Linked DNA regions of Homo sapiens. The protein of the gene in region 3 interacts with the protein of the main gene of each other region in a pairwise test. Each region holds a gene or a part of one and is shown on either strand. Other genes may lie near its edges.

The links.
Region 1: the proteins of CDK18 (region 3) and CBY2 interact in binary tests that used the Homo sapiens proteins (3 or more experiments, as listed by UniProt).
Region 2: the proteins of CDK18 (region 3) and CCDC125 interact in binary tests that used the Homo sapiens proteins (3 or more experiments, as listed by UniProt).

Annotation. Positions count from the first base shown.
Region 1 is NC_000013.11:45,705,302-45,712,335, forward strand, and holds part of CBY2 (protein chibby homolog 2), read left to right. Parts: intron 1-7,034.
Region 2 is NC_000005.10:69,280,786-69,287,819, reverse strand, and holds part of CCDC125 (coiled-coil domain-containing protein 125), read left to right. Parts: intron 1-2,352; coding exon 2,353-2,483; intron 2,484-4,785; coding exon 4,786-5,091; 3' UTR 5,092-6,681; coding exon of another isoform or gene 6,682-6,713; 3' UTR 6,714-7,034. UniProt on the Homo sapiens protein: May be involved in the regulation of cell migration.
Region 3 is NC_000001.11:205,528,636-205,533,291, forward strand, and holds the end of CDK18 (cyclin-dependent kinase 18), read left to right. Parts: intron 1-363; coding exon 364-461; intron 462-688; coding exon 689-794; intron 795-885; coding exon 886-928; coding exon of another isoform or gene 929-1,138; exon of another isoform or gene 1,139-1,617; intron 1,618-1,623; coding exon 1,624-1,714; intron 1,715-1,992; coding exon 1,993-2,070; intron 2,071-2,708; coding exon 2,709-2,743; 3' UTR 2,744-4,155; downstream 4,156-4,656. UniProt on the Homo sapiens protein: May play a role in signal transduction cascades in terminally differentiated cells.

The DNA.
Region 1 (7,034 bases), on a different chromosome or scaffold from region 3:
CAATGAACGTGCTCTGTGAATTTCATTAAGGCATTGTTTACTCCTAGATCATTAATGAAAGAGCTACACCAGGTCAGACTGAGCTCCAATAGCACCCTCCGGTGCCTCCTTCATCCTTCCCAGTTGCCTTTTCTCCTTCCCCTTTGTTTGTGCTTGTTACTCAGAAGCAGTGAATTCCTGCTGACAGCACCCGCCAATTTGAATTCCCAGGAAGATTTCAGGAGAGTCTCTGTTAAACAGTATGCAAACATACTACATATGACATCTTCTTTATCCTCTTTGCTGTTAACGTTGTAATTCTGTCAACATCAATCACATTTACCTTGTGAATTATCCTTTTACCTGTTAGTATTTATTAAAACCACCATTGACTTTGCCATGGTACCAGGGAGCTGAATTAATTTAAAATAATGATAATGAGACTCAGCCTTGTCATCTCATATGAAAATCAGTATCATATTTGGCTTTTCCTTCCAGAATCCTGGGTCCTCTCAACTTCACATGCTTTAATAGTACCTCAGATGGCTGAATGTTCTCTGATAGTAACCCTCAGTAATGTTGGCAAAGTTGGTGTTTAAGAAACTTGGTCAGCAGGCTTGGACTCTATCAGCAGTGTTTGGACATCTCTTCTGGGCTGTGGTAGCCACATTTTTCCAGGGGTGGAGAGACATCAGTGTGTGTCAGCTAAGCCTGGCTAGTTGCTGTTCAATCCCATCCCCAAACTCTTTGGATGGGAAACCACACCCCCAGTAATTCTATCCCAGAAGGTCCCACCCAGAGAGACCTGTTGCTACAAGTCCTGTAGCACTAGTAAGAGATTTTGGTCCTTTCACTTCCCCTTTTCCTTTTGCCCTTTGGCCTTTGCATTTTGCCTCCCTTCTTTCAATTGTCCCCTTCCCCCATGTTCTTCACTTGCCACCAGGTTGGTGATCTGACAAAGACACAGTTGTTGGCAGATTTCAGGCATTTTCCTTCCAGGACCACTTATATTTACCAAGGAGGGCACCAGACCTAATGCTAAGGAAGAATTCCAATCCACAGATGGGACTTCAGGCTTCTGTGAGGGCGATGTTCGTGCCCATGGCCCTTCCTGGATCCCTGTCACTAATGCATCATTGGGTTACAGCTATGAGCACATTTCCCCTGAGGACAGAGTCTCTTGGCACCTTTCTAGCACCCGACAGGAAGGCATGATGAGCCCATGACCAACTTATTCCCCTTCTGCATCAGCTTCATATCTCATTCCTCCATGAAGAAGCCAACCTTTTTCTTTCCTACCTACTGGATCTCTATGTGAGGGCATTTCCTAGAGACCAGAAAAGAGACAATCTTTTATTTTCATGGTCAGTTGCACCATGCTACACAGGCTGTACCTCCCAGGCTTAGGAGAACATTACTGGGGTGTTCTTGGGGCTTTGTATTGGCATAGACCTCTTGTCAAGGGCTAAAGGATATCAGGGCAGGTTAGCTTGGCCCATGAAACCAATCCAGTGATACCACTGGTCGAGGAGTCCTACTGAGAAGGAACTGGCTTCTAACATAGGCCAAGGAGGTCTGGAATCCTGGAACTGCATATGTTCGCTGAGCTCAGATGCTTAGTTTTTGGGTAGCCCTTTTGTAAAGAAATATACTCCACGTTGCATAGCGCTTTAGGCTGGGTATGTTTAAACCTTACCAGTAGAACTGACCATCTGTTTAGTCTTTATGACAGCTTGGCTACCACTTTCTTGTCCTCTGGCAACCCCAGGAAGTAGGCAGAGCAGCCATGTTTAGGCTTATTTTAGAGGTGACATTCTGAGAGGCAAAATGACTTTCTCAAGAGCAGTCAAAGGAAGGACTTTTGAGCCCAAAGTTACTGGAAATTTAGGGCGTTTACCCTCGTTGGATTATATATTCAAGATGATGAAAGGGACCACTAGCGTGCTTGTGTGCAGGGGGTGGTGGGAGCTTCCTCTAAGGGAGTACATGGATGAACCTAGGGGTTTGTGGAATTCACGTGAGGAAAACTCCATGCTTATAGATTTTACATCATACCATAACAGCTTTGCCCTGGGACTATTTTAAAGTCTTAAAATATGAATGGAAATGAGGATATAGCTTATCAAATACACTAACTATATTAAGGCAAAAGAAATGGCCATTTTTGTAGGCCAAAAATGGTAAAATGTTAACAGTTTCTTATGGTTCAACCTAGTATTTCCTCCCAATCTTTCAGTGTATTTTGGTTGATTCAGTTATTGCCAAGGACTCATTAAGCCTCCACCACATGTGAAATTTGCTTTCTAATTCCCAAGACTTGGGATGTCACAAAAACAAGGGATAGGTCACTGTGCTTAGATAATTGCAACTTACTCATATGGGGAGAGGACAGGCCTGGTTGTAAGAGAACCATTGCAAAGTAATGATATTAGCACATGCAAAATAAAATGTCTGAGCATTGTGAAGTGCTAGAATAAACATGGAGTTTGGAGTCAAATATCCTCATTTTAAACCCTGGTTCCACTCCTTTATCAGCTATGTAATCTTATGCAGAATCATGCCAGTTCTTTGGGTAAGATATTACATATGAATACAGAAATCAATTAGCATATAACCTGACACATTATAGTCACTCAGTGTTATTTTTTTTCTTGTTCTATATAATCTTTCTCTAAAGAAATGCTAAGCAATGTCTCTTCTAAAAGCCCTTCTTGTATGTCTGCAGCTCTTTATAAACAAAGAAAATGTTCCGAGTCTCCTTTTATTTCTGAACAACAAACCCTCTGAGAGAAGTAGGGCAGATGTTGGTGAGGTCGTTATAGAGGGTTGTACAGGTTGTGCCCTGCAGTAACAGTGAATAGCGCCTTTTAGAGTTGGGCATTTCAAAAATATATGGGTTGGCCCTGATTCATTCATGTCAACATCCACATTTTCTAGGAACTAAGGCACAGAAATGAAGTGACTTTGTAAAGGTCATGCACTCATATAGTGCAGAGCCAGAATTCTCTGGAGATGTTATCATTTCTAGTCCCCTATTCCCCACACCTTGCTGCCTGCGTTAATGCTTCCTGCATTTTGACTTCTCTCATTTGCATCAAGAAGTAATTGGTGCTATTCACTGATTCTTCAAATCAACTGGAAATTCCCTGAGGGCAGGGTCTGTGAGCTTGGAACACAGTACGTGCCAAATTAATGTTAGTTGATTCACTGACACTAATGTAGGGGAAAAATTGGTGCAATAACATCCTGAGTGGGTACATGACTAGGGTGAAGAATTTTCACAAGGCCAAGAGCTTTCCTTTAAGGATTAAATCCAGCTAGCTCTGATCAGAATCAGAGAAATGCTACAGGAAAAAACAAGTTTGTTCTGGATCAATGTTTTCCTGAAGTTCAATCATGATCCTTGTCATGTCTAAAAATGCCTGTATATTTAATATAGGTATGTTTTCCCATTACTCATTAAAATAAGTATATGACTACTGAAAAATTTTTAAATGTTCTAAGAAATTAAGCCATGAGGAAACACTGCACTTGACCACTTTCTTGGTCCTGTCTGAGGATAGGAGGAAAGATAATAGGACTCAGTCATTGGAGAAGAATTTGGTTTCCTGTTGAGAAAGTAAAGGGGACTTATTTGTCCATCAGCATTTCCTGGATTAGGTGCTGTGGGCATGGAACAAGAGAAGGCACAAAGCCTGCTTGGGAAGAGTTGGCCATTTAGGGGAGAGGACGAGATGCCAACTAGGTTGGTAAAAGAGGGCTGCTGGGGCCATAGTGGTGCCAATTTACAAATGCAAATCCACTGGACCAGAGACAGTTAGGCCAAGAGAGCACTTAGAGATAATGACTCTTACCCTTCATTTTACAGAAGTGGAAACTAAGGTCAGAAAGTGAGTGGATATGAGCAAGATCACCTGAATGTGTGAATAAAGACCAGGGCACAAACACCCAGGTTGTCCGTGGCTAGGGATCCACCATATGTTAAGGTTTTGTTTAGTGTATTTCTGTTGAGGGGATGACAGAATGTTCCTTGGGTACCCAGTGTGGAAGGTGGATGTAGAACACAGGCAGCTGAATGCCATGGGTTAAAAGCCATCATGGCCAAATATGGACAGGTAGAAAGCATCCATGATTCCTCTTTGGACCCTTAGTTGGATCAAGAAGATTGTCTCTCTGGCTGAAACAAAACGATCGTTAAAAAGAAATGAGAATTGGGGAAATTTGAACATGGGCTCAGTATTCGCAGATATTGAGGGATAATTGTTAAATGTTAAAGGGTGATAATGGTATTGTGATTCTGTTAAAGAGGCACATATTTATATATTTGTGGATAAGATGACACAATGTCACTTTGCTTTAAGATAACCTAGCGGTAGGGGAGTGGTTGTGGAATCAGGTTGAGGCCTGGTGAAACAAGTGTGGCCTTGATTTGATACTTGGTGAAGCTGAGTGATGGGTACATGGACATTTATTAGACTATTCTCTCTCTTTTTGTGTATGTTTGAAATTTTCCATCATATAAATTGAAGGAAAAGATATCATGTTCCCCAAAGTACTGCAGGACTTTTGATAAATCCATGGTGGTTTCCCATGTGTGTACTTCACACATAGAAGGTCAGGGAGCCAGAAGTGGGTTTGTGTCTTAGTGAAGGAGCTAGTGCTGGTTATTTAACATCTCTGAGTTTCAGTTTCTCCATCTGTAAAATAAGAATAGTAATAATATCTTACATGTCAGTGTGGTGAGGATAAAATGAATTTAGTAGGTAGAATGCTCAGCTCACGGCCTAGCATGAAATTGAGGCTTAATATTTGTTTCCTTCTTCCATTTTCTTCTCAGGACTGGGATGCACATGTTGACTAAAACCACATTTTTCCATGTTGATAGCTTCTGGAGTCAAATCCTGCTGAGATAAAGTATTAGTTCTAGTGCAAGGATGGAGAGAACCTCTTAAGATTCACTCCTGCCAGGCACGGTGGCTCATGCCTATAATCCTAGCACTTTGGGAGGCAGAGGCAGGCAGATCACAAGGTCAAGAGATCGAGACCATCCTGGCCAACATGATGAAACCCCGTCTCTACTAAAATACAAAAAATTAGCCAGGCGTGGTGGCACGCGCCTGTAGTCCCAGCTACTCTGGAGGCTGAGGCAGGAGAATTGCTTGAACCCGGAAGGCGGAGGTTGCAGTGAGCCGAAATCGTACCACTGCACTCCAGCCTGGGCGACAGAGTGAGACTCCGTCTCAAAACAACAACAACAACAACAACAAAAACCACCACCACAACAAAACATTCACGTCTTTGGCTTTGACCAGTCTTCCCAGAAATCCTGGATCTCAGGACCTTAAACCTATCAGAAAATGGTCTAGGTTATCCACAGTGAGGTTCATTCTGATCACAGACAGCTACAGGAGCCAATCTGCTTTCCCAGTTGAGAAATGTGAAAACCAGGGAGGCTGAACTTTTTTAAACTAAATAAAATTCCGCTTGCAGAATGCCCTCATACCCTTGCTATCTGGAAGATTGAGCGTATCCTTACAAAGTTAATGACATGTGCTTATTGCAAAGTTAATGGCATAGAACTGCATCTTCTATTTATCTAGCTCTTTAAGTTTTAAAGAATTCTAACCAACTTTATATACCATGCAAATTGTGTTTCTCTCTCTACATACACCCACACATATATATATAATGTAGTTAGCCTGACTTGTTTTTTATTTTCTCTATCTGTACGGTTGTGAAAGTAACCTAAGACATAAGGAATTGATATCTGGAGAGCATTTTGATATACTTGGATGAAGTACTTTTGGTGTATTTGGAAGTAGCTATCATGATCTGTTTACTTAAATTCATGGCTGCAATCATCACCTCTTCTCTAGTGTGCATTCTACTTGCTCACTTCTTTTTGAATACATCTTATAATTCTTGCATTAGTGAAATCTACTCTTCTTGATAATAATACCTTATGGTTCTTTGGCACTGTTGGTTTTAAAAATATTTTTGCATTCATTATCTCATTTAATCCTCACAACAGTGTTGTGAACTAAGCAGGGCACATATTATTTCTATTTTACAGGTATATTTCATTGACTTTTCAATGTTGGAAGGTGCCTTTAAGATCATGGAGCCCGACTCCCTCTTTTTCACTCGTGAAAAGTCTGGGTCTCAAAGAGGATAAGAGAGCTGTCTGGTTTCAAAGTGCCCATCAGTGACAAAATCAGGATGAGAATTCTTGTGACCTTTCAGTCTGTAATGCTGGTGCAACCCTCACTTAAGCAAATTGCCTATTCTACTTGACTTAGATCTGTCCTAACCACCTGCAGCCAGGAACACCTGAAGGAGCTGGTTAGAAATGCAGATTCCTGGGCCACACCCCAGTCTGAGTAAATCAGACTCACAATGGGAGGCTCAGAAATCTGCATTTAAAACTCACTGGAGTTATTTTTCTGTACTGGGATGTGTGAAAGCTACCAGCTCATTGGAGTTAAGCTCTGTGGATCTGAGCCCCGTTTTATGCTGTGGTCTTGAGGTCTATGGCCACCATCATGAATTCCTCAGGGTCCTTGACTGGCTTTATCACCACATGTTGAACGCTCATTGCTCAGTGATATGTCTGGGATGGGTTTTCTTTCTTTCCAAAATTATTAGTTAGACTCTGCTTTGAGTCTAGCATTGCATTAGAAGCTGGGGTGAATGTTTAAGGGGCTGCTAGCAGAAAAGACTCAAGGGTGGCTAAGAGTGAAGGATATGCCCAGATGGGCAAGAGAGAAGGCTGGGCTGACCAACGGCACCGCCATTTTGGACACAGCAATTTGGGTGGCTGTTTGGATGATTCATGCTGCTTCTCTGCTCATGCTAAGTGTGAGTACACATCTGTGGGTGGTGGCCCTTGAGAACAGTGTTTGTTCCTCCTTTAGGGTGACAGAATGTGCCAGAGCCCATGCTTAGTGCTTTTGTACATTGCCTTTTTTAATCCTAAAAATGTCTCTATGAGGCAAGGAGTAAATGCAATTATCCCAATTTGAAAATGTGGAAATTAAAGCTCAAATAACTTGCTC
Region 2 (7,034 bases), on a different chromosome or scaffold from region 3:
AGGCAGGAGGATTGCTTGAGCTCAGGAGTTTGAGACCAGGCTGGGCAACATAGGGAGACCCTGTCTCTATTAAAAAAAAAAAAATAGCCAAGTGTGGTGGTAGATACCTGTGGTCTCAGCTACTAGGGAGGCTGAAGTGGGAGGATCGCTTGAGCCTGGGAGGCTGAGGCTGCAGTGAGTCATGATCCCACCACTGCAGTCCAGCCTGGGTGATGGAGCAAGACCCTGTCTCAAAAAAAAAAAACCACCAAAAACTGATGGCCGGGTGCAGTGGCACGCCTGTAATCTCAGGACTTTGGGAGGCTGAGGTGGGTGGATCACTTGAGGTCGGGAATTTGAGACCAGCCTGACCAACATGGAGAAACCCTGTCTCTACTAAAAATACAAAATTGGCTGGGTGTGGTGGCACAAGCCTGTAATCCCAGCTACTCGGGAGGCTGAGGCAGGAGAAATGTTTGAACCCGGGAGGCAGAGGTTGTGGTGAGCCAAGATTGCGCTGTTGCACTCCAGCCTGGGCGACAAAAGCGAGACTCCATCTCAAAAAAAAAAAAAAAAATTGATTAATCTCGCACAGCTTTTATAAATCTATACAAGTTTGAGTAGTTCTTTCTCAGTTTCTCAGTGACAAGACTTTAATTCATTTTATTAGTATATTTCAGTAATCTTAAGAGGTACAGGGTGATACAGATTATTTTATGTTTAGTAACACTTAATATCAACTTTCTTTTTGATATGGCAGTTTAGACAAGTTTCCGGAAGTAGTTTATAGGCATACTTCTTTCTTTCTTTGTATTTTTGCTTTTGGGTTTTTTTTTTTTTTTTTTTATCTTAAACTCCTGGGCTTAAGCAATCCTCCAGACTACCAGCTTGAGCCATCACACCAAGCTATTTCTTTTTTTAGACTGAAAATAGGGACACAGATTCATCTACTCATCAAAGTGTCAGTTTCTCTGACTTCTGTTTGCCACAGCTCCTCGTGGAAGGGGTCAGGGCCGCCCTCGTCACTGTGGTCTGTCAGGATTGGTGGGAAGGGGATCTCCCCTCATCTGCTCTCAGTTTCCCACTAAACCACTTTTGGAGAATATTCCAAAAACATTCTTGAAATTTTCCTTGTACAATCTGAGATTTTATAACTTCTGCAAATTACTTTCCTTCAATGGATGAAGAAGGACATCAATGATGTCAGCACGTGAAATATTAAATATTATGCTAATACCTGAGCAGGGCCTTTGACAATTGTGGTATTTTTTGTTGTTGTCGTGATGGTGGTAAAATATATCTAAAGTTGGCCGGGCGCGGTGGCTCACGCCTGTAATCCCAGCATTTTGGGAGGCCAAGAGGGGGCGAATCATGAGGTCAGGAGATCGAGACCATCCTGGCTAACACAGTGAAACCCCATCTCTACTAAAAATACAAAAAAATTAGCCGGACGTGGTGGCGGGCGCCTGTAGTCCCAGCTACTCGGGAGGCTGAGGCAGGAGAATGGCGCGAACCCGGGAGGCGGAGCTTGCAGTGAGCCGAGATTGCGCCACTGCACTCCAGCCTGGGTGACAGAACAAGACTCCATCTAAAAAAAAAAAAAAATTATATATATATATATATATATATATATATATATATATATATATATAGTTTACCATTTGAACTGTTTTTAAGTGGTATTAAGTATATTCACATTGTAATGTAACCTTCATCACCATCCAGCTCCAGAACATTTTCATCTTTCTTTACAGAGACCCTGTCCCATGAAACAGTAACTCCTCACTTCCCCTTCTCCAGCCCGTGTGATTTATTATTTAATGGCACAGTTCCCTGAGAAGAAGGTAATGCTATTCTCATTTTAGAGATGAGGAAATCAAGCTGAGAAAAGTCACCCGAGGTCATACAGTTAGTAAGTGGCTGAATGAGGATTCAAGTCCAGGTCTTTGCTGTTCGGAAGCAGAGTTTGCATGGCTCAGAGGCCCCCTGTGGCCTGCAGACATGTTTTGTTAGGTTGGCTTAGTGTAGTCAAACAATAAGACTAGTGGCTGACATTTAGAATTGGAAGATGTCATGACAGATCTGCATTTCTGGCTGCTCTTGAAGACTGTGATGATCCAGTGACATGGACTGTGTTCTTGTGTGGCCTGTGTGTCAGCTGGCACAGAGGGGTGGCTGTGCCGCATGGCAGGGCGGCACTCTTGCTGCCTCTCACCTGCATTGCTCCTGGCTCTGAAGGCTGTGCTCTGCTCACTACATTCCACTGTGTGCTCCTGGACTCACTTGTCCTAGAGATCAAGTTACCTCTTTTGCTGGAAGTATATCAGTGAGGATATTTTAATGTCTCAGCTGGATTCTCATGTTCAATTTTAGGATTTCCATCACCAAGGAGTAAGAAGACCTTCGGGCAGAGACTGTTGGGTATGCTCCCTTCAGAAAACAGTTCTAAGAGGATGGAAGACCAGGACAGTCCTCAAGAGGTCCTTAAGATGCTCATAGATTTGGTTAGTGTCTTTGCTTTTTTTTGCAGGTTATGGTTAAGCCAAGCTTGTCCAACCCACGGTCCGTGGGGAGCATGCAGCCCAGAACAGCTTTGAATGTGGCCCAACACAAATTCGTAAACTTTCTTAAAACATTATGAGATCTTTTTGATATATATATATATTTTTTTAGTTCATCAGCTATCATTAGTGTTAGTGTATTTTTTTGTTTTGTTTGTTTTTTGGTTTTTTTGTTTGTTTGGTTTTTGAGACAGAGTCTCTGTCACCCAGGCTGGAGTGCAGCGGCGCGATCTCGGCTCACTGCAACCTCCACCTCCCGGGTTCAAGCAATTCTCCTGCCTCAGCCTCTAGAGTAGCTGGGACTGCAGGCGCCCACCACCACGCCTGGCTAATTTTGTGTGTGCGTTTTTAGTAGAGACAGGATTTCACCATGTTGGCCAGGCTGGTCTCAAACTCCTGACCTCAAGTGATCTGCCCACCTCGGCATCCCAAAGTGCTGGGATTACAGGCGTGACCCACCATGCCCAGCCAGTGTTAGTGTATTTTATGTGTGGCCCAAGACAATTCTTCTTCTTCCAGTGTGGCCCAGGGAAGCCAAAAGATTGGACACCCCTAGGTTAAGCTAATCTATTTGCTTCCTGTTAATTCAACTCTTTATCTCTCTAGACTTGCACTTGCCTTCTATGTCCTTTTCCCAGTTGGAGTACCAGACTCTACCTTCATGATCTTTATCTCCCTCAGCTCATCTTTTCTCGTCATTCATATTCTTTCTGTGCAGGTTTAAAGGCTCCATCTTGGAAAACAGGGGGCTCCTGTAGTTAACTCCAGCCAGCTTTGCCATCTACATTTATATATATACAGTTTGTGACAAGTCTGCCTGTTTATTGAGGCATTTTTAAAGTGTTCAAGGCATTTCCTCACACATTATATCCTTTACAGTCCTGCTACCCACATTCCACATGGAATGACTAAACTAAGACACTGAGACTCAGGTTATATGAACATACTTATCTCTAGACTGTTATATATTTGCATACAAATATATGAAAGCAATTTTATATACAAATAACTTCAACATTATTTTATAAATATGCACGTTGATATATTTTTTATATGTTGATATTATATACCTATATATACACACTTCATATAGATCTATATTTTCCCTTCATTTCCAGATGACTTGCAAAATTTTCAATGCTGTCTTCTGTTTTTTTTTTTAAAAAATTATTTTTAAAAAATAATCGTCGGGGCTGGGCACAGTGGCTCATGCCTGTAATCCCAGCACTTTGGGAAGCCGAGGCGGGTGGATCATGAGGTCAGGAGATCGAGACCATCCTGACTAACACGGTGAAACTGTCTCTACTAAAAATACAAAAAATTAGCCAGGTGTGGTGGCTGGCACCTGTAGTCCCTAGCTACATGGGAGGCTGAGACAGGAGAATGGTGTGAACCCAGGAGAGCGGAGCTTGCAGTGAGCCAAGATCATGCAACTGCACTCCAACCTGGGTGACAGAGCGAGACTCTGTCTCAAAAAAAAAAAAAAATTGTCAGCCTGGCATGGTGGCACACATCTGTAATTCCAGCACTTTGGGAGGCCGAGGCGAGTGGATCACTTGAGGCCAGGAGTTCGAGACCAGCCTACAAAAATTAGCAAGGTGTGGTGGTGCACGCCTATAGTCCCAGCTACTCTACTCGGGAGGGTGAGGCCCAAGAATCACTTGAGCCTGGGAGGCAGAGGCTGCAGTGAGCCAAGATGGCATCACTGCATTCCAGCCTGGGCAACAGAGCCAGACCCTGTCTTAAAAAAAAAAAGAATTGGCCGGGCACGGTGGCTCACGCCTGTAATCCCAGCACTTTGGGAGGCCAAGGTGGGCTGATCACAAGGTCAGGAGATTCAGACCATCCTGGCAAACACAGTGAAACCCCGTCTCTACTAAAAAATGCAAAAAATTAGCTGGGTGTGGTGGCGGGCACCTGTGGTCCCAGCTACTTGGGAGGCTGAGGCAGGAGAATAGTGTGAACCTGGGAGGCAGAGCTTGCAGTGAGTGGAGATAGTGCCACTGCACTCCAGCCTGGGTGACAGAGCCAGACTCCGTCTCAAAAAAAAAAAAAAAAAGATTCATGAATAACATGTAGTATAATGTTTGGGGATCAGGTGATACCTAATTTATTCATACTGATGGACAGATCAGTATGAATATTAGGGTTGAATAACTTGATAAAATAGTACAATACTCCTTTCTCTGAATATATTCTGTGATTTATTGACTAACTTGTACATGTTTAATTTCTGTGCATGCAGCTTAATGATAAAGAAGAAGCTTTGGCTCATCAAAGAAAAGTTAGCTACATGCTTGCTCGGGCATTGGAAGACAAAGACACTGCTTCAAACGAGAATAAAGAAAAAAATCCTATAAAAGAGAATTTCCCTTTCAACAACCCCTGGCGTAAGACTTCAGAATTCTCTGTTTTGGGTGATCCTATACATTCAAGTGTCTGCATTTTAAATTCTGTGGGCTGCATTTGTTCAATCCAGCACTCTCAAATAGATCCAAACTATAGAACTCTTAAAAGATCCCATTCTTTGCCATCAAGTATCATATTTTAAAGACAAGCCAGTTGAAATTGGAACTGAGAGTTGTTTATATCGAGATACTTTGAAAAATGATTTTGTAAATTTTGCTGCATCTTGAGAAGTTGTATGTTTCCTAGGTATTTCTAAATTTTAGGAGGTCACTTAAATCAAATATTTTCTACATTTTCTTTTTCTTCTTTTGAGATGGAGTCTTGCTCTGTCACCCAGGTTGGAGTGCAGTGGTGTGATCTCGGTTCACTGCAACCTCCGCCTCCCGGTTCAAGCAATTCTCCTGCCTCAGCCTCCCGAGTAACTCGGATTACAGGCATGTGCCACCACGCCCAGCTAATTTTTGTATTTTTAGTAGAGACGGGGTTTTACCATGTTAGCCAGGCTGATCTTGAACTCCTGACCTCAAGTGATCCGCCTGCCTTGGCCTCCGAAAGTGCTGGGATTACAGGCGTGAGCCACCACACCCAGCCTATTTTCTACATTTTCTACAAGAAATTAGTATTCTGTGTTGACATTTTATTTATAAATTACATTACTGTATTTATAAATTACATTACAGGCTGGGCATGGTGGCTCATGCTTATAAATCCCAGCACTTTGGGAGGCCAAGGTGGGTGGGTCACCTGAGGCTGGAGTTCAAGACCAGTCTGACCAACATGGAGAAACCCCATCTCTACTAAAAATACAAAAAATTAGCTAGGCCTAGTGGCGCATGCCTGTAATCCCAGCTACTTGGGAGGCTGAGGTAGGAGAATCGCTTGAACCTGGGAGGCGGGGGTTGTGGTAAGCCGAGACTGTGTCATTGCACTCCAGCCTGGGCGACAAGAGCGAAACTCTGTCTCAAAAAAAAAAAAAAACACATTACAGTGTTTGCCAACATCCTAAAACAAAAAATAATGATTTTTGGGAAAAACAAAAAATTATTTAACTATTTTGATTGACTATAGGGATCTTAGCTTGGCTAAATCAACAATATAGCAATGTATCTTAATGCTCTAAAAAGTAACAATACCTAGGACTGACTGAATGTTAATTTCTGGAATTCATTTATCTTGTTTTATTTGCCTTGTTCAGTATTTTTCATTTACCATATGAAGTTTAGAAATAACAATTTCCTTAAGTTAACTTCAATAAGACAGTTTTGATGGTGGGACCTTGGCAGAAGTATATTGAGTCAGTGCCGGCTGCGTTCATGGCTTCTTGTCAGGGTAGTAACATTTTGCAACCAAATCTGCACAGATTTGTAGCCAAGTCTACAAAGTGCTTAACAGCTCTTTTCATTGCATCCTGTGAGATGGTTGTGATGATCCAGGAAATGGGGTCTCAGGAATCTGAAGAAGCTGCCTGAGCCAAGGTGATTTCTAGGAGTTTTTTTGTTTGTGGTATGTGAATTGGGGTGTGTGGGGGTGGGGTGTGTGTGTAGACAGGGTCCCACTGTGTTGCTCAGGCTGGTGCCAAACTCCTGGCCTCAAGGGATCCTCCTGCCTCAGCCTCTCAAAGTGCTGGGATTACAGGCATAAACCACAACTCAATAAAAAAGTTTTTAAAAATTTACAAAGCTCATATTTGATCCAGCTAGGATTTTACCCTGTACATTTGTATTTCTTGTAGGCTGGCGCACAGATATCTTAAATGGCTACTAATTGCTGCTGTGTATGAAAACAAATGGCTATCAAGGCCGGGTGCAGTGGCTTACAGATCTGGTCTGAATCTCAAGTCCAGACCAGTCCAGAGTTCAAGACCAGCCTGGGCAACATGGTGAAACCCCATCTATACAAAAACTCGGCAAGGCATGGTGGCATGCACCTGTTGTCCCAGCTACTCAGGGGCTGAGGCAGGAGGATGGCATGAGCCCAGGAGCTTGAGGCTGCAGTGAGCTGTGATTGTGCCACTGCACTCCAGCCTGAGTGACAGAGTGAGACCCCCATCTCCAAAAGAAAAGGCTATCAATACAAAAGTTTATC
Region 3 (4,656 bases):
GAATGGATTTATGTACTTCTCTTCCAGTGGGGCACACAGTGGAGAGAGTTTGAGACAACACTGCTGAGAGAATTGCCACATGGGCGCTGGCTGCACAGACCCAAACCTCACAGAGTGAAAGGGGACTTTCCTCACAGAGTGAAAGTCGCAGCTTTCCCGAGCCCAGGGAAGCCCCCCAGAGAGGGGCTGTAGTGGGGGCTGGGCAGTTCTAGGAGCCTCCACTGCCCTGGGCCACCCCTCCGCCGCCAGAGCCACGATCCCTGCAGCCGCCTGTGGCAGGTCGTCATTGGTGCCCTGGTGGAGCAGCCCTAGGAAGGGCGGCCGCCCCTGCCTGATGCCGACCCTACCCCTTGCTCCTCGCAGGGGCGTGGGCTGCATCCACTACGAGATGGCCACAGGGAGGCCCCTCTTCCCGGGCTCCACAGTCAAGGAGGAGCTGCACCTCATCTTTCGCCTCCTCGGTCAGTCTCCCGCTGCTCCGTCCCTCTCACCACCAGGGGGCGCCGGAACTCCTCCAGCCCAGGCGCGGAGCGGGACGGGGAGGAGCGGCTCGGCCGCCTCTCTCCCGGGCGGGGACCCCCTGTGGCCTCGGCCATCTTTGCTCCCACCTCATACATTGCATCCCTTTCAAGTCGGCCTTGGCCCTGGGCCTCACGCAGGCCCTCCCCACCCTCTCTCGTCTCCCCAGGGACCCCCACAGAAGAGACGTGGCCCGGCGTGACCGCCTTCTCTGAGTTCCGCACCTACAGCTTCCCCTGCTACCTCCCGCAGCCGCTCATCAACCACGCGCCCAGGTAGCCCCTGCGCCCGCCGCCCCTCCTGCTGCGGCCCTGGCTCTCCCATCCCCAATCAGGCACAGCCTGTGTCCGCGCCTTCTCCTTGCAGGTTGGATACGGATGGCATCCACCTCCTGAGCAGCCTGCTCCTGGTGAGTGTCCTCCCGGCGGGGCCCAGGGAGAGGCAGCCAAAGAGCCAGGTCCCTGTGCCCCATGCCGGGCCTACGCCCCAACTTCTGTGGCTCGTGTGCTTACACGTCTTTGAAACATCTCCCCTGTACTCTCCACCCCCAAGGCCAAGGGGTGGCCTCCATACACATCCTCTGGAGTCTGTGCACTGCGAGCCCAAACCCGTTACTTAGCTGTGTAGCTCTGGGCAAGTTACAGAGCTCCTCCATGCCTCAGTTTCCTCAGCTGCAAAGTGGGATTAATACCTATTTTATAAGATGGCCGTGAGGATACATTGAGATGACGGGACACACTTAGTGTGGTGCCTGTCTTGTAAGGCACACGATGAAGGGTTGTTATCGGCACTACGCTTCCTGTTACGGATGTTCTCCATCTGATCATGGTTGGTTTGCATCTGTATTTCTATCCCAAGAGAAGGTCACTCTCCTGAAGTTTCATTTCTGGTTTTTCCTGGTGGCTGGAGACCGAGGAGCCTTCCCCTGAGTCTTGAGATGGCCTGAGGTTGGGTTTGTGGTAGGGGCTGGAGGCTGACCTGGGGCTTCTCCTGTTAGCCTCAAGCCTCACCCACCTTGGTGCTCTAACCAGCACTGGAGTCCTGCTGCCCAGAGGGTTTGCAGCCCCCCAGCCGGGCCCAATAGCCCCACCCTGTGCCTTTCAGTATGAATCCAAGAGTCGCATGTCAGCAGAGGCTGCCCTGAGTCACTCCTACTTCCGGTCTCTGGGAGAGCGTGTGCACCAGCTTGAAGACAGTGAGTACTGGGGGTCCGGGAGCAGGGCCACCCAGAACCAAGGAAAGGGGTTGGTGAGTGTGGGCAGAAGAACCAGAACAAAGAGGCCAGAGGCCCCAGCCCCAGCAGAGCAGCCCCGGGCACCTTGCCTCCCCTGCTGGGGTTCTCATTCCAAATTGAGGGGGCAAACAGTGGAAATGAGACGCTGCCTCGAGGGCTCAGTTGGTCCTTCTGGGCCAGTCCTTACTGGAGGCCAGCTCCACGCAGCCCTCTCCAGACTATGCACTTCTCTCCCCCAGCTGCCTCCATCTTCTCCCTGAAGGAGATCCAGCTCCAGAAGGACCCAGGCTACCGAGGCTTGGCCTTCCAGCAGCCAGGTAGGGGCTTGTGCTCTCCTGGACCCCTCCCCTTGTTAGTGGAAGCCAGAGCAGGCGACCCCTCCCCAGTGGGGACTCCCATGGTCCCCCCACCACTGGCTTCCCTTTGGACTCTTTGGGGAGCAGAGAAGGGGTTGGTTTCTCCTGCCTAGACTTCCTCGTCCAGCTCTTCCCTCCTCAACCCTCCACCCCAGACAGGACATTGCATTTGACAGTAGCCCTGGCAAAGAGGCATGCTGTCTCTGGTGCATTCTCTCTGCAAACCCTGAGCTCTCTAATCAGATTCCATCCTGGGAGAACGGTACTTTGTTCCTAGAACAGTCAATGGCCTTGGACATTGACAAATGCTTTCCATGCATCGTCTTCTTTAATCCTTAAAATACCCCTTGAAGCTAGTACTATTAATATTCCCCATTTCATAGTCAATGAAACTGAGGCTCTGGGAGGTTAAGTCACAAGTTCATGCAGCTAGTAAGTAGCAGAGATGGGATTTGACACCAGGTCAGACCGGCTCCTGTTTGCATGCCCTTGCTTGCTCTGTCAGAGCAGCTCTGGGGGACAGCGACTGTCCCTGCTGACCTGGGGTACCCGTCAGCCCAGCCTCCTCCCTGCAGCCCCACCTCTTCTCCATTCTCCAGGACGAGGGAAGAACAGGCGGCAGAGCATCTTCTGAGCCACGCCCACCTTGCTGTGGCCAAGGGACAAGAGATCACATGGAGCACAAATTCGGGTAGGATGGAGCCTGTGTGGCCCTCGGAGGACTGAAGAACGAGGGCTGACAGCCAGCCTGGAAGACCGCTTGGCAGCCCTTCTGGCCACGGCTGTTTCTTCTTTGTGCTTCCCGTGTGCCTCCCCAGTAGCCCTCACCTGCATACCAACCCCTCCTTTACCCACGTTGGGGCTGGCATAAGCTGCTTCCCTGAGAGGACATGAGGGGGGGGCGGTCCTCGTACCCTCTCCCACCCTGGTGTTTGGGCACCTGCGTGGGATGCACACGGATGACAGAATCAAGGCGCCAGGATGGGCACTCTGCCCTGGATACAGGCTCTACCCTCCTCCCCCAGGACCTGCCTAGTGCCAGTTTGGTAGTCCCCCTTTCTGGCCCCTTGGAGCCCACACACGTTTCATCTTTTTCCCCTCTGAGAGCAAGAAGAGACATGGCATGTTCTCTGGGACCCTGGAATCCTAGGTACCCACATGTGTGCCAAAGCCTACCCCACCTGGCAGGTGTCCCACAGCAACAGAAGGAATAGTAGTCCCCACTCTTTCCATCAGCCCTACCCTACCCTCATTCCCCGACACCCTCTGGCTTGAACCATGGCTGAGCAGTGCCGGCATACGCTTTGCTGGCATGCTTGGATGCCCAGCTGTGTCCAGAGGTGGCCTGGGACCGCCAGTTGCACGCCTGCCACCTCAGCCAGCCCCCGCCCAGCTCATCAGTCTGAATGGAGTTGCCTTAAATTGGCAGGTGGTACCGTACTCACTGCCCTTGGAGCTGTGACCGGCTCCTGCCTGTCCACCCCTTCCCGAGGTGGCTCCTGCTTACCTTATCATCCCAGGGCTCTGATTAGCCAGGCCTGGTCAGGGTCCTGGGGACGGCACCCAGATATGCAGAGTCACCCTGACACTGGTGCCAGGCTGACCTCAGCTCCCGAAGGCTCGCACAGCCTCCCCATCCTTCCTTCCCAGCCCTTGTGGCTCTGTCCACCTGATCCCAATACCAGCTTCCCCCAGCCCCTGCCACCCCAGAGGGCGGCCACGACAGGGAGAGGTGTAGATGCCACCATCTGAGGGAGAGGAACGTGGAACAGGAGCAGGCTCTGATGCTGAGAGGCTTGCCTCCGGGGGCTGGAAGCCTGGGTGGCCGGGGCCCCTGAAGAAGGCTCCCCTCTGTATCCCCCAGGTCTCCTCAACACTGGGCTGATCCTGAATGGCACAGGCCAAGGGGAGGCCAGCCTCGCCTTTCTACCCAGGCCCCCTGCCCTGCCCACCTCAGGCCCCCACCCTCCACTCCTCCCCACGGTACTGTGAACGTCGTGTGACTCAGTGCAGAGACAGATAATATATTTAATTCATGTACAGAAAGGAGCGAGCAGTCTCGTACAGAAAAGCTGACTTTGATAGATTGATGCCAAAGATGGAGAACTGAAGTCCCCCCTCCAGGCCTAATGAGTGTGGGTGGGGTGTGCTTGTGTGTATGTGTGTGTGTGTGTGTGTGTGTGTGTGTGTGTGTATATATATATATATATATATATATATATAGTGAGGAGAGAGTTTGATTTGTGTGTATCTCTGACCTCCCCTACACCCCAGGCTGTGGGACGAGTGCCTAGCATTCACCTTGCTGTATCCTGGGTGCTGCTGCGTTCAGAGCCAGAAGTTGGCTCTTGCTGAGGAGCATCAGTGGTTGTTGTGGGTGGGCAGAGGAGTCCCAGGCCTGGGAGTCTGACCTGTGGCCTGGCATTGGCCCAAGTTGGTGCCTGTGGGGTGGGGCTGGCCAGGAGAGCAAAGAGGGACCCCTGGGCGGGGGTCTGGGGTCTGGCCGTGCAGCTAATCCCTGTGTTCCTGATGCCAAATGGCCCCCTG